Regions from separate parts of the Homo sapiens genome. Here all the other regions are linked to region 2. The links come from fine-mapping of genetic effects on gene expression. A gene starts in region 2. Each other region holds a variant in brackets. All regions are shown on one strand. Distances are between the middles of the regions.

Evidence for each region. PIP is the estimated chance that this variant, and not a neighbour inherited with it, causes the effect. A credible set is the group of variants that fine-mapping cannot tell apart.
Region 1: its variant is the best candidate, but not a certain one, in a credible set for the expression of UBAP1L in esophagus muscle (GTEx, PIP 0.90).
Region 3: its variant is the best candidate, but not a certain one, in a credible set for the expression of UBAP1L in transverse colon (GTEx, PIP 0.66).

What each region holds. Positions count from the first base shown.
Region 1 is chr15:65,546,649-65,552,064 of GRCh38, reverse strand. HACD3 (3-hydroxyacyl-CoA dehydratase 3) reads right to left here. Exons shown (of 11, transcript NM_016395.4): 2 at 347-389. Among named protein-coding and RNA genes, the nearest start is that of HACD3, 19 kb to the right of the region's middle. The variant G/A (reference allele first, on the strand shown) is at 2,712.
Region 2 is chr15:65,113,110-65,118,109 of GRCh38, reverse strand. It overlaps UBAP1L (ubiquitin associated protein 1 like), which reads left to right and starts at 2,910. Exons shown (of 6, transcript NM_001163692.2): 1 at 2,910-2,960. PDCD7 (programmed cell death 7) reads left to right here. Exons shown (of 5, transcript NM_005707.2): 5 at 1-731.
Region 3 is chr15:65,167,759-65,172,927 of GRCh38, reverse strand. All of the region lies in intron 3 of CLPX (caseinolytic mitochondrial matrix peptidase chaperone subunit X), which reads left to right. Among named protein-coding and RNA genes, the nearest start is that of CLPX, 15 kb to the left of the region's middle. The variant G/A (reference allele first, on the strand shown) is at 3,087.

The sequences.
Region 1 (5,416 bases), 430 kb before region 2:
AAACCCAGCATCTTCATTGTACAGGTCCAGAGAAGTCAATAACTTGTCCAAGATAGCGGCAGAATTAGAGCTAGAAGACACGTCTCCTGATTTCTAACCCAGGATTCTTTTTTTTTTTTTCCTTCACTGTATCTACTGCCTCTCCATGGGGGAAACAGGATTTTAAACCAATTCTTTGACTTTTCTAATCATATATTTCAAAACAATTTAGCTTACCTCATGAGGATCAGAGGCGTGAACATCAGCAAAAAACAAGTAAGACAAATACATTTTTTTAAAAAAGGGAAACCACCACCACACCTCCTTAACTGTGTATAGAGATGGGAGCATTTGCTGGGATACTGACCTTTGAAATGCAGCACGTTTTCAGTGATGCTGATGGCAGGGTTCTGTGAAAAGAGACCAAGGATGCAAGAAGGCATTTTAATGAAGAGAAAAAATGAGATTAAACAAGGGGCTTCTTCCCCTCATCCCTCTCCCATAAGGACTCAAACTCCTACTCTGTGCCTCCCCCAGAAATATATTTAGTCATTTATTCACATCTCTGTAGGCTTTCTCTATGTCTGTCTGTACCTATCTAAGACTGCAGACTCCTGCAAGAAGGACCCTAACCTGCTCTAACTGTGCAAACAATCAAGTACTGAATTAGTCCATTCTGAAAATGGCCAGTCATGCAAGGTGCTATGTGAGATATGACACGGGAATACAGAGATCTCCAGGACTCAACCCCTGAGCTGTAGAACAGAGGATCCAGTGGGACAGATGAGGCACTTTCTGTGAGAAGATATCAAATAGTTATTAAGAAACATATGGTCAAGACGAAAAGGGTGGTAAAAGGCAGTAAGTGTTAGCAGAGTTAGGAGAGAGAGAGAGCACAACAGGAATAGAGTGGTGGGGAAAAGCTTCACCAAAGGTGAGACCTGTACTGCAACCTGAATGATAAATTAATTCCAACAGGTAGAGGGAAGGGCAGAGGATTGCAGGTGGTGAATGAAAATGAAACACGCTGTGCCTGTGTCTCTAACTTAGAGGCTCCAGACTCTCTTAACCCCCAAAGGAAACAAGACTCGGGAGAGGTCAAAATTCTCCAGACTGCTCATTGATTCCCAGAAGTTGCTACATACCTTCAATTTAGCATCATAATGTAAAGTGAAACTACTTAACACTTTTTCCAGTGGATGAGAAACAACCCAACTCCTACTTCCAGCTCAAGGTTAACAAGCAAGAGGCAGCTCCTTCCCAGTGTCACGGTGTTTGTTTTTCTTCTGTGGGCTTAGCTTTCTGTGTTCCCCAACTACAGCTGTCATCTGACCACAACCTCATGAGATTCCAAGCCAGAACAACCCAACAGAGCCCCTCCTGAAGTCCTAACCCACAGAAACTGTGAGAGACAATAAACGACTATTGTTGCTTTAAGCCACTACATATTGGGTGATTTGTTATGTAGCAACAGATTAACAAATAATTATTAACTGCAATTATTTATTTAAATGCTTGGTAGAACTTCCAGGTGAAGCCATTTAGACCTGCAAGTTTCCCTGTGGGAAGATTTTTGACTACTGAATCCATGTATTTAATGGTTATTGGGCTATCCAGGTTTTCTATCTCTTTTATAGAAACTGTCTTTATTTCTTGGAATTTATCCATTTTATCTGATATGAACTTGTTTAATATTTTCTTTCTTTTTTTTGAAAAATTCACCCAGGCTGGAGTGCAATGGCTCAGTCTCGGCTCACTGTAACCTCTGCCTCCCAGGTTCAGGCGATTCTCCTGCCTCAGCCTCCTGAGTAGCTGGTATTACAGGCGACTGCCATCATGCCCGGCTAATTTTTGTATTTTTGCAGAGACGAGGTTTCACCATGTTGGCCAGGCTAGTCTTGAACTCCTGACCTCAGGTGATCTGCCTGCCTCGGCCTCCCAAAGTGCTGGGATTACAGGCATGAGCTACTGTGTCCAGCCTAGATGCATATAACTTAATATTGTTGTATCTTCCTGGTAAACTGAAACCTTATCATTATGAACTGCCCTTTCTATCTCTAAAAATACACTTGTGCCTAAAAGTCTATTTTGTGTGATATCAGCATAGCTACTACAGAGGATCGATCTGCATTTGCTTCTGCCAGGGACCTAGGGGTCCTACCAGTTGAGGCCACTTTAAACTAAATGCATGGCTTGAGGGTTCTCAAGTTTAGAGTTTTGGTTCTCCTAAATTGTGTGAATTTGGGCTACATAACCTTTGAGAGCCAACTTACAGTTTTAACTTCTCAAGGACCTTTTCTTCTATTAATACTTAGCTAAGTGTTAAGGCAACTGGAGACAGGCAGATGGAATGGGCTTATTTCTAGTTCATCCTAACCCTAAGTGTATAGTCCTCTCTGAAATACGGTTTATGGAGAAGATTTCCTATTACATGTTACACCTTTGGTGGGTCTTGGGCTTTGATCTTTTTTTTTTTTTTTTTTTTTGAGATGGAATCTCGCTTTGTCACCCAGGCTGGAGTACAGTGGCGCCATCTCAATTCACTGCAACCTCCACCTCCCAGGCTCAAGCGATTCTTCTGCTTCAGCCTCCCGAGCAGCTGGGATTACAGGTGTGCGCCACCACACCCAGCTAATTTTTTTTTTTTTTTTTTTTTTTTCCCAGCAGAGATGGGATTACACCATATTGGTCAGGCTGGTCTCAAACTCCTGACATTGTGATCCGCCCACCTC[G/A]GCCTCCCAAAGTGCTGGGACTACAGCTGTGAGCCACCGCACCAGGCTGGGTTTGACCTTACTTCTATTGCCTGCGCCCTGTTGGGCTGTCAAAACCAAAGTTCAAGTTCACTTAGTTGAGCAAATGTTCGCAAGGCAAAAGCAGTTTCCACGTTCAGCTTATCTGAGTTCCCAATTTCATTTCTACCGTGTTAACTTTTCGATGTTTTTAAGACATTTTTATTCAACACTTTTAGTTGTTTTTATTAGAAAGCTCAATCTACACAACCTAGCCCATCTCTTACAAGAAAAGAAACTGTGCCTTTGCTTATGAAAGGAGGAGTGAACAGCCAGGCCCGGTGCCATGCACCTATAGTCCCAGCTACCGGGGAGGCTGAAGTGGGAGGATCACTTGAACCCAGGGGTTCAAATGCAGCTAGGGGAACATACATAGCAAGTAGTCAGACCCTGTCTCTAATTCTTTTAAAAAATAAAAAGAGAAAGAGAGTGGCTGGGCAAGGTAGCTCATGCCTATAATCCCAACACTTCGGGAGGCCTACGCAGGAAGATCACTTGAGCCCAGGAGTTCAAGACCAGCCTGAACAACATAGACCGTCTCTACAAAAATAAAAAAATTAGCCAAGTGTGGTGGCACATGCCTGCGGTCCCAGCTACTTGGGAGGCTAAGCTGGGAGGACAACTTGAGCCCAGGAGGTCGAAGCTGCAGTGAGCTTTTATTGCACCACTGCATTCCAGCCTGGATGACAGACTAAGACCCTGTCTCAAAAAAAGGAGTGAAGAGGGAAAAGGGAATACGAAAATTTTCAAATCATCTTAATCATCTTTTTTTTTTTTTTTTTTTGAGACAGAATCTCCCTCTGTCACCCAGGGCTGGAGTGAAGTGGTGCAATCTCGGCTCACTGCAGCCTCCATCTCCCAGGCTCAAGGATCCTCCCACCTTAGCCTCTCAAGTATCTGGGACTACAGGTCCACATCACCATGCCTGGCTAATATCTTTTTTAAATTTTTTGCAGAGACAAGTCTCACTATGTTGCCCAGGCTGGTCCCGAACTCCTGGGCTCAAGTAATCCTCCACCTCAGCCTACCAAACTGCTGGGATTACAGGCATGAGCCACCATGCCCAGCCATAATTTTAAAAATAACAATAAAATCACTTACATCACAGGTCTGCTGTAAGGATTAAGTTATAATAGCACACACAGACCCTGGCAACTAGTAAGAATTCACATTCCAGTTGCTTTTTTTCCTCTGACTAAAGTGCCCATCTAAGTTTCCATGCCTGTTGAACACTACTTCTCTTTCAAAGTTCAGGTCAAATGTTAATTCCTGTTCTCTCCTCCTCACCCTAACATCAGAATCAACAGTTTCCTTCCTACTTTGTATTCACCTTTACTATAATACTTATCACACTGTTCCACAATCATTGTTGATCATTTAACTGCCCCTCTTGACCTGACTTCTTTGATGGCAGGGACTGTGTCTTATTCATTTCCATATACCTAATGCCTCAATAACTGTTAAGTGAACTGAAATCAATTCATCCCATTTTCAGAATCTCTGGCAGAACTACAAAGAGTTCACAATAAACTACCTGCTATCTAACCCTTTAGACAAGAGTTTCCTTTCTCATTCAAATCATTAGTATTTATCTTCAAATTTATGTGATTAGTATGTGTGCAGAAGAGTTAATATAGCAAGCCTGAGGCTGCAGTCTTTAAAAGGGCCTGCTTCCAAGATCAGCCTTTGGCTGGCATCTATCTAGAAACTCGGCTTTCCTCCATCACCTAACTAATAAGGGTGGTCCAATGTTCCTAAACTGTGCCTACAAACAATGTGATTTATGGTGAATATCAACTTTCCTTCTAGGAGCCTGAAATTTTGGTACATGTTAGGCAGAGGTTACCTAAGTAACAAGCCCCAATAAAAATCATGGGTACTTGGCCGGGCGCGGTGGCTCATGCCTGTAATCCCAGCACTTTGGGAGGCCAAGGTGGGTGGATCATGAGGTCAGGAGTTCGAGACCAGCCTGACCAATATGGTGAAACCCTGTCTCTACTAAAAATACAAAAATTAGCCAGGCATGATGGCGTGCGCCTGTAATCCCAGCTACTCAAGAGGCTGAGGCAGGAGAATTGCTTGAACCCAGGAGGCGGAGGTTGCAGTGAGCCGAGATCAGGCCACTGCACTCCAGCCTCGGTGACAGAGTGAGACTCCGTCTCAAAAAAAAAAAAAATCCTGGGAACTCAATCACTAACGGGCTTCCCTGGGCAGAAAAGTTATACATAAGTCATTGCATTTTTCGTCGCTGGTGGAGTGTGCTCAAATATACCCCCTCACAGGAGGAAGAATGATAAAGAGGCTTATACGTGGATTTCTCCAGACTCCACTTGTGCTTTTTTTCCTTTACTGATCCTGTCCTGTATTCTCCAGCTGTAACAAACCTTAGTCATGAGTACAATTATATACTAAGTCCCATGAATCCTTCGAGCAAATCACTGAGCACACTGGTGGCTGCCGGGGAACCCCAAAACTCTGTGTATTTTTAATGTGATCCTTTTCACCCCAATGTTTTATTTTGAAAACATTTAAATCTACAAAAAAATTGAAAAACTAGGCCAGGCATGGTGGCTCACACCTGCAATCCCAGCACTTTGGAAGGCCAAAGCAGGCAGATCACTTGATGCCAGTAGTTTGGGACCAGCCTG
Region 2 (5,000 bases):
GAACTTAGAAAACCTGAAGAGTACCCAAATTGGATTGTATTTTAATGGACAATGGCTGTATTTTTTCCATGTTAGAAGGATCCTAATGAAAGCACCTGTTATTTTTAAGTTTCTAAGGGTCTAGTTGTTCAGAATCCCCAAGGATATTTCCCTAACCTCACTCAGTCACATTGTAGGAGCCAGTGTAGCTATGGAATTATCTTAGGAACTCAAGCTTCTAAAACTATCCATGTAGTCAAATCTAGGGGAAAAAGCAAATAAAAATAGTAAAATTTGGCCGGGCACAGTGGCTCACGCCTGTAATCCCAACACTTTGGGAGGCCGAGGCGGGCCGATCACGAGGTCAGGAGATCAAGGCCATCCTGGCTAACACGGTGAAACCCTGTCTCTACTAAAAATACAAAAAAATATTAGCTGGGCGTAGGTGGTGCACACCTGTAGTCCCAGCTACTGGGGAGGCTGAGGCAGGAGAATGGTGTAAAACCCAGGAGGCAGAGCTTGCAGTGAGCCGAGATCGCGCCACGGCACTCCAGCCTGGGAGACAGAGCAAGACTCCGTCTCAAAAAAAAAAAAAGTAAAATTTATTTTTTATATTCATTAATAAATGCTGTTGTGCTTGGAGATGATCACTCATATAACATGTCATTTTTTTGGTTCTGTTTTGGTTTGGTTTTTGCCAATTATTTTGTTATATTTCCAAAAAACTAAATAAAAATCATTTTTATTTTTTAGTTTGTGCCTTTGCTGCCAATTTGTTGCCTTCCAAATCACTTAACACACACTTTCACATTGATGAAACATATTTTCATTCAAAAATTCAAATTTATTAAGCAGGCATTTGTTACAGGAATTTGAATCTTAAATGCTAAACTTTATCTGCAAAATCCAAGTCTGGATTGGTAAGGATACCATCAATTTTGGAAATAATGTTACGTACTGTAGTTGGAAGCTTTTGGGTGCAAGATACTAATGGCTTTGTCCCTTTTCTGTTGTTTAATTTGCATTAATTTATACATTATATAGAGTCAACAGATAGGGAATGAGGGCCACATGTCTCCAAAATGTATGTCTACGCTTATAAATCTTAAAATCTGATATGATTACCCTCATAGAGCTCCACAATCCTGTGTGCCTTTTTGTTAGATATCTCCACCATTTGCTCTCTGATGAGATGCAGGAAGAGTAGAAATAAGGTGAATTGTACGATGTGTGTTTGGTGTCTGGACAGCCTTGCCACTAAGATATCTGCTGTGAGGGCAGGGAATGTGCTGCAGGGACTCAGGAAAACTCGGACAGCAGAACCCAAGAAGGTGGCATTTAGCCACAGATGGAGAAAAAAAAAATCCCTTTTTCCTTTGGCCCTTGCAAGGTTTTAATAAAGTGATCAGGCTGGGTGTGGTGGCTCACGCCTGTAATCCCAGCACTTTGGGAGACCAAGGTAGATGGATCACTTGAGGTCAGGAGTTCAAGACCTGCCTGGCCAACATGGTGAAACCCCATCTATACTAAAAATACAAAAATTAGTCAGGCATGGTGGCAGGCGCCTGTAATCCCAGCTACTTGGGAGGCTGAGGCAGGAGAATCACTTGAAGCCAGGAGGCGGAGGTTGCAGTGAGCTGAGATCACACCATTGCACTCCAGCCTGGGCAATAGAGCGAGACTCTGTCTCAAAACAAAGAAAATTAAAAAACAAAACAAAACATGAGCATTACTCTTGTTCGGTTTTTATTTGTAAGATTTTCCTGGTTTATTACCTGTGTGTAGTGGTGGTGGCAGTAGCCACTGGTTCTTTCAGGTTTAGAGAGACTCATGGTAGTATCTTTAATGAATTGTACTTTCAAGAATATGAGCAGTGTTATTGTAATGTTATCCCACAGTCTTTTTTTTTCTTTTTTTAACTTGGGGAAAATTTCAAATACATTCAAAAGTAAAGAGAATAGTACAATGATTTTTTTCCATGTACCCATCATCCAGCTTCAAATCATTATCAGCTTATGGCCAATCTTGTTTCATCTATACATCCTCCACTCACCCTGGATTATTTTGAAGCAAATCTCAGGCATCAAATTACTTCATCTGTAAATATTTCATTATGTAGCTTTAAGTGATTAAAAAAAAAATCTAACTACAGGGCCATTATCACATCTAAATAAAGGAGTAACAACTCCTGAATATCACAAATATCCAATCATTGTTCAAATTGCCCTCTCGTAAATGTTTTACGTTTTGTTCAAATTAGGATCTGAATAGACTCCATACACTGTTGTTTGCATCCTTGTGATGCCATGTCCCTCTGTTCTCGTATGTCCTATAATTTAGTAGTTAAACAGAGCTGTACTGTCCAATATAGTAGCCACATTCAGCTGTTGAGCACTTGAAATGTGATCTATTTGAGTTGAGATGTGCAATTACATATGTGGATCACGTTTCAATTGGATAGTGCTGATCTAGAGGCTTGATCACATTCAGATTGGAATTTTCTGGCAGGAATACTTCACAGACATAATGTGTACTTCCAGTCAGGAGGCACTGATGTCTTGGCTTTTTTTGTGATGTTAGCGGCCACTGATAAGACCCAGATTCATTCATTGATGGGGAGGGGACTCAAAAATAGTGATAGTTTAATTCTGTCATTCTTCAATTATTAACTGGAATACTTTTAAAAAGAAAAACTGTACAAAAGCATTTGTTTTTAATAAATTCGGTAAATACAGAGATTAGAAAGCTATGAGAGAAAGAGATTAGTTCTTAAATACTAAGGGTATTTAGCCCAAGTGGCTGAGTTTATGATGTCAAAGAATTTGCTGCTACAAGCCAACCAACTTAATCACTCTATAAAACCATTCATGCTCCTATGCCCATGTGACATTTGTAACAAGAAGCTTAGGCTTATGCCATCTGTTGTAGCTATTCATTTATACACGCTTTGTCTGCAGGGAAGTTCTCCTGGTAATTACAAGGTAAGTACAAAGTATATCTTATTCCATTTAAATAAGTATAATATGCAATATATGAAAGGAATGTGAACATTCTGAAATAGTAGTGATTTATGGAATAGTGATTAAATGAGACATTATCAACTAAATTTGTTTTTTGCCACCTGTTTGTCCCAGATTTTTTGTAATGCTTAGAACCTATAAGCTATTTCCATATGATGAGCTCTTTACCTTTTTGTGAATCCACATAGTAGTTCCTGGCTTCCTGTATCTGGCCACACATGAAGAGTATGTTTCCATTGCAGAGTTCATTTGCCTTTTGGAATAAATTTGGTTTTTCATAGCCTCCAAAGCAAAGATTAAGGTCTCTGAGGCAAGTGGTGTTAGAGTGCATAACTGTGTAGAACAGTGGACACTTTCCTCAGCTTTGTTAATTCATGCTGGCCACAGTCTGGATACCAGAATTTGAATTATGTTCTATGGGAAATGATTTTTTATTTACCATTTTCCAGGTACTGTGGTTAGGTGCTAGGGATGTAAGAAGGGGTGAACAGACAGGATTCCTGACCTCCTGGAGTTTAGAGTGAAGAAGCTTAATGATTATAACAGAGTCATTAGAGACAATTGTGATAAGTGCTACAAGGAAAAGTACTTATCAGCCAATTTATATATTTCATTCCAAATGTTTAAGTGCCTATTAAAGCTAAGCAAAATGCCAAATACTCCCTAACCTCATACAGAATACAGGCAATGAGGAAGGTAGATATTAACCCAATAATCATAAAAAATATGCTGAGTGCTTTGAAAGAAAGACATGGTTCTGAGATTATGAATTAGGATTTTTCTTCAAAAGCGTTCTGTGACACATTTAGTTGAAATAATAGGAAATATGTATCATATAGTAAGGGTAAGAATCATTATTCAGTTTACATATGTGTATGCTAGGAAATAAAAGTATACTATGGGTCATAGTTAAAAAAAAAAAAAAAAGGCTGGGCGCGGTGGCTCATGCCTGTAATCCCAGCACTTTGCGAGCCCAAGGCAGGTGGATCACAAGGTCACGAGTTCAAGACCAGCCTGGCCAAGATGGTGAAACCCTATCTCTATTAAAAATACAAAAATTAGCGGGCGTGGTGGCAGGTGCTTGTAATCCCAGCTACTCGGGAGGCTGAGGCAGGAGAATCTATTGAACCTGGGAGGCAGAGATTGCAGTGAGCTGAGATCGAGCCACTGCACTCTAGCCTGGGCAACAGAGCAAGACTTCATCTCAAAAAAGTAAAAAATAAAAAACTTTGTAAAGGCCACTGTGCTAGGTAGACCTGACCAAGTTTGAGAGTCAGGGCAAGCTTTTTTGAGGAAGTGATGTTTCAGCTGAGCTCTGAAGAATGAACAGCTTTTTCTTTTCTTTTCTTTTCTTTTTATTCTTGAGACAGACTCTCGCTTTGTCGCCCAGGCTGGAGTGCAGTGGCGTGATCTTGGTTCACTGCAACCTTCGCCTCCCAGGTTCAAGCAGTTCTCTCGTCTCAGTCTCCTGAGTAGCTGTGAGTACAGGCGTGTGCCACTACACCAGGCTAATTTTTGTATTTTTAGTAAAGAGGGGGTTTTGCCATGTTGGCCAGGCAGGTCTCGAACTCCTGACCTCAAGTGATTTGCCCACCTTGGCCTCCCAAAGTGCTGGGATTACAGATGTGAGCCATTGTGCCTGGCATTTGAGCAGCTTTTAATTAATTGTGGGGAAGCAACAGGGAAGAACTTAGCAAGTATCCAGAACAGGATATGCAAAGGTTCTGTGGGGACTGAGAGACCATGGCAGTTGAAGGCTAGCATGACTGGAGTAAGATGGGAGGAGAGGAAACGGGCCAGACACTGCAAGCCTTCAGAAGTTTAATTTTTATTTTGAAAACAGCCAGGAACCATTGAAGAGTTTTAAGTAGGAGAGTGCCTTAGTTTTGTTTCGTTTTGTTTTCTAAAGAAGGGGTCTTGCTATGTTACCCAGGCTGGTCTTTAACTCACGGGCTCCAGCAATCCTCCCACCTCTGCCTCCCAAAGTGTTGGGATTACAGG
Region 3 (5,169 bases), 55 kb before region 2:
TCCTCCCACCTCAGCATCCTGAATAGCTGAGACTACAGGCAAATGCCACCCTAGAGACAGGGTCTCATTTATGTTGCCCAGGCTGGTCCCGAACTCTTGGGCTCAAGTGATCCTCCTGCCTTGGCTTCCCAAAGTGCTGGGATTTTTGTGCTACCTCCTGGGACTCACTGTGGTTTTGATTTGCATTTCCCTAATGACTAATGATGTTAATCTTTTCTTAGGTTTATTGGCCATTTGTCTGTCTTCTTTGGAGAAGTGTCAATTTAAATCCTTTGTCTTTCTTTTTCTTTCCCCCCAGACGGAGTTTCGCTCTTATTGCCCAGACTGGAGTGCAGTGGTGTGATCGAGGCTCACTGCAACCTCCACCTCTCGGATTCAAGCAGTTCTCAGCCTCAGGCTCCTGAGTAGCTGGGATTACAGGCGCCTGCCAACATGCCCGGCTAATTTTTTTGTATTTTTAGTAGAGATGGGGGTTTCACCATCTTGGCCAAGCTGGTCTTGAACTCCTGACCTTGTGATCCGCCCACCTCAGCCTCCCAAACCAACAACATTTTATGTAAAGAAATATAGGATACTTGTAGTAGCTGTTTAAAGGAAAGAATTTATCTCCTGGTAACTTAACAAAATTAGATTTTTGCCCCTTGTTTTTGGAGTAAAAATGCATTGGCCAGGCATGGTGGTTCATGCCTGTAATGCCAGCCGTTTGGAAGGCCAAGGCGGGTGGATCACCTGAGGTTGGGAGTTTGAGACCAGCCTGACCAACATGGAGAAACCCCATCTCTACTAAAAATACAAAATTAGCTGGGTGTGGTGGCGCATGCTTGTAATCCCAGCTACTCGGGAGGCGGAGGTTGCGGTGAGCTGAGATCGCGCCATTGCACTCCAGCCTGGGCAACAAGAGTGAAACTCTGTCTCAAAAAACAAAACAAAACAAAAAAGTGCATTGCAATGCTTGTATTTTTTTTTCCCAAAATAGCATTTTGATAAATAACATTGAATCCTTGAATTTAGGGATATGTTGAAAATATGTCAGTGTAAAATTGTGTTGCAAATATTCAAGTCAAATTTAAGCAACCTTTCAACAATAAGCAAAGAGGGATGTGATTTGTTGGTGTTTAATCATTTTCCTTTTGATCTAATTTCCTTAGAGAAATATTTTGTACTTGTGCTCTCAGGCCAGATTTTCCTGTCACACTGCCTGAACTAGATCAGCGGCTTCTCTGCCCTTTAATCCTTGCCCTGTTTACCATCAGTAACAATTGTAAACTAGTGCCTCATCATTATAAAGGCAGTAACTATCTTTCCCATTGATGGGAAGTGGTGATTATTTACTTAGGCTTGTGTTAGTCACAGATGCTTCAAATAGCTTGATCTTTTTCTTTAAGCATTTATACGTGATCAGCAAATAGGAAACATGGATGAAACCGCTTATTCCTTAAAATTTGCTAATAGAATTTATCCGAAATGTTTTTTTTTTTTTTGAGACTGAGTCTCGCTCTATTGCCCAGGCTGAAGTGCAGTGGTGTGATCCCAGCTCACTACAACCTCTGCTTTCCAGGTTCAAGCAATTCTCGTGCCTCAGCCTCCCCAGTTGCTAGGATTACAGGCACAAGACAACACGCCCGGATAATTTGTATATTTTTAGTAATGACAGGGTTTCACTATGTTGGCTAGGCTGGTCTTGAACTCCTGACCTTAAGTGATCCACCTGCCTCAGCCTCCCAGAGTGCTAGGATTACAGGCGTTAGCCACCTTGGCCGGCCCAGAATGTGTTTTTAATTAGTCTTGTGTTTAAGAACAGAAACATGGCTGGGCGCAGTGGCTCATGCCTGTAATCCCAGCACTTTGGGAGGCTGAGGTGGGTGTTTCATGAGGTCAGAAGATCGAGACCATCCTGGCCAACATGGTGAAACCCCATCTCTACTAAAAGTACAAAAATGAGCTGGGTGTGGTGGCATGCACCTGTAGTCCCAGCTACTCCAGAGGCTGAGGCAGGAGAATTGCTTGGACCCAGGAGGCGGAGGTTGCAGTGAGCCCAGATCGTGCCACTGCACTCCAGTCTGGGTGACAGAATGAGACTCCGTCTCAAAAAAAAAAAAAAAAAAGAAGAACAGAAACACAAGAATTGATTGAATTGATAATGAAGTGGTTTTGTTTGTTTTTGAGACAGAGTTCTGTTGCCTAGGCTGGAGTATAGTGACGTGGTCTTGGCTCACTGCAACCTCCGCCTCCCAGGTAACCATCAAGGGATTCTCCTGCCTCAGCCTCTCAGGTAGCTGGGATTACAGGCACCCGCCACCACACCTGGCTAATTTTTGTATTTTTAGTAAAGACAGGGTTTCGCCATGTTGGCCAGGGTGGTCTCAAACTCCTGACCTCAGGTGATCCACCCGCCTCGGCCTCCCAAAGTGCTGGGATTACAGGCCTGAGCCACCCCGCTCAGCCTAAAGTTGTTTTTTTAATATGGAATTGTCTACTTTTTTCATTTAGATTAGTTTGTAAAGACGTAGGTGTGCTTGCTAGTGCAGTGTTCCCTATAATCTGTGGATAGATATTTATATTTAAAATTTTCCCAAAGGAAAAAAAATTCCATGAATTTTTTTTTTTCTCTGCAGTTCTCTCTTTCTAGTTGGGTTACACAAAAATGTATTACTTAGACATACTAGCTTTGTATTTGCCACCTGTACCTATAAGAGATTCTCTACCAAATTGCTTTCTGAGGTCCCCGGTTACCATTAGTAGGGTTAGGCTGAGTTAAGCATGTATGTCCAAACCCAGCTACTTGGGAGGTGGGAGGATCCCTTGAGAACAGAAATTTGAGGCTAGCCTGGACAACATAGCAAGACAGCAGCTCTTAAAAAAAAAGTCGCTGGGTGCGGTGGCTCATGCCTGTAATCCCAGCACTTTGGGAGGCTGAGGCAGGCGGATCACCTGAGGTCAGGAATTTGAGACCAGCCTGACCAACATGGTCAAACCCCATCTCTACTAAAAAATACAAAATTAGCCGGGCGTGGTGACACATGCCTGTAATCCCAGCTACTTCGGAGGCTGAGGCAAGAGAATTGCTTGAACCCTGGAGGCGAGGC[G/A]AAGGTTGCAGTAAGCCGAGATTGCACCATTGCACACTAGTCTGGGCAACAAGAGCGAAACTCTGTCTCAAAAAAAAAAAAAAGTAAATATATCCATATATCTACATCCTATAACCATGTGTTGTTTTATGTTTATTTGTTTTGTTTATAATAAGAGGGCACGATGGGCACCATCTCGGCTCACTGCAACCTCTGCCTCCCAGGTTCAAGCAGTTCTCCTGCCTCAGCCTGCTGAGTAGCTGGGTTTACAGGTAGTTACCATGCCCGGCTAGTTTTTGTATTTTTAGTAGAGACAGGGTTTCACCATGTTGGCCAGGCTGGTCTTGAACTCCTAAGCTCAAGTGATCCACCCGTCTTGGCCTTCCAAAGTGCTGGGTTTACAGGTGTGAGCCACTGTGCCCCGCCAACATCCTATAACCATGTTTTGAAAAGAAAGAGTAGGCTGGCCTCAGTGGGTCACGCCTGTAATCCCAAGCACTTTCGGAGGCCAAGGTGGGAGGGTTACTCGAGTCCAGGAGTTTGAGACCCGCCTGGGCAACATCATGAGACCCTGTCTCTACAGAAGATTTTTAAAAGTAGGCAGGCATCGGCCGGGCGCAGTGGCTCATGCCTGTAATCCCAGCACTTTGGGAGGCCGAGGCGGGCAGATCACGAGGTCAGGAGATCGAGAGGCGCCTGTAGTCCCAGCTACTCGGGAGGCTAAGGCAGGAGAATGGCGTGAACCTGGGAGGTGGAGCTTGCAGTGAGGCGAGATTGTACCACTGCACTCCAGCCTGGGCGACAGAGCAAGACTCCATCTCAAAAAAAAAAAAAAAAAGTAGGCAGGCGTGGTGGCGTGTGCCTGTAGTCCTGGATACTCAGGGAGGCTGAGGTGGGAGGATTGCTTGAGCTTAGGAGGTCAAGACTGCAGTGAGTAGTGATCACGCCACTGCACTTCAGCCTGGGCAACAGAGCGATACCCTGTCTCAAAAAAAAAAAAGAGAAAAGAAAAATAAATCACCTTTAACATAGGATATACTGTAGCTGATCCATTGGAATTGAGAAATCCTTATAAATGTATTCATCCACTGTGTATCCGCAAAGTTTTTTTTTTAATTATACTTTAAGTTCTAGGGTACACATGTACAACGTGCAGGTTTGTTACATAGGTATACATGTGCCATGTTGGTGTGCTGCACCCGTTAACTCATCATTTACATTAGGTATATCTCCTAATGCTATCCCTCCCCCCTCCCCCCACCCCATGACAGGCCCCGGTGTGTGATGTTCCCCACCCTGTGTCCAAGTGTTCTCATTGTTCAGTTCCCATCTATGAGTGAGAACATGCGGTGTTTGGTTTTCTGTCCTTGCGATAGTTTGCTCAGAATGATGGTTTCTAGCTTCATCCATGTCCCTACAAAGGACATGAACTCATCACTGTGTATCCACAAATTTTTTTTTTTTTTTTTTTTTTTTTTTGAGACAGAGTCTCACTTTGTCGCCCAGGCTGGAGTGCAGTGGTGCAATCTCATCTCACTGCAAGCTCCACCTCCCGGGTTCATACCATTCTCCTGCCTCAGCCTCCCGAGCAGCTGGGACTACAGGCGCCCACCACCACACCCAGCTAATTTTTCTATTTTTAGTAGAGACAGGGTTTTACCGTGTTAGCCAGGTCTCGATCTCCTGACCTCGTGATCTGTCCCCCTCGGCCTCCCAAAGTGCTGGGATTACAGGCCTGAGCCACCATGCCTGGCCAAAAATTTTTAAAAGAAAAAAGAGACTCTTTTTATCCTCACTTTAAACTACCTTTGTATTGCTTTCAAAGTCTGCATGATTATCTTTAAATCCAATCAGTATGACTGAGAAAGCAGTATTTTGTTAGTTTCTTAGTGGTTTTTTGATCAGAGAAATAGGAACTAGTGGAGTAAAGATAAAATAAGAAAGATATGAAATAATTATATATATATTTTTTTCTGAGATGGAGTCTTGCTCTATCTCCCAGGCTGGAGTGCAATGGCGCAATCTCAGCTCACTGCAACCTCCACCTCCTGGGTTCAAGCGATTCTCCTGCCTCAGCCTCCCGAGTAGCTGGGATTACAGGTGT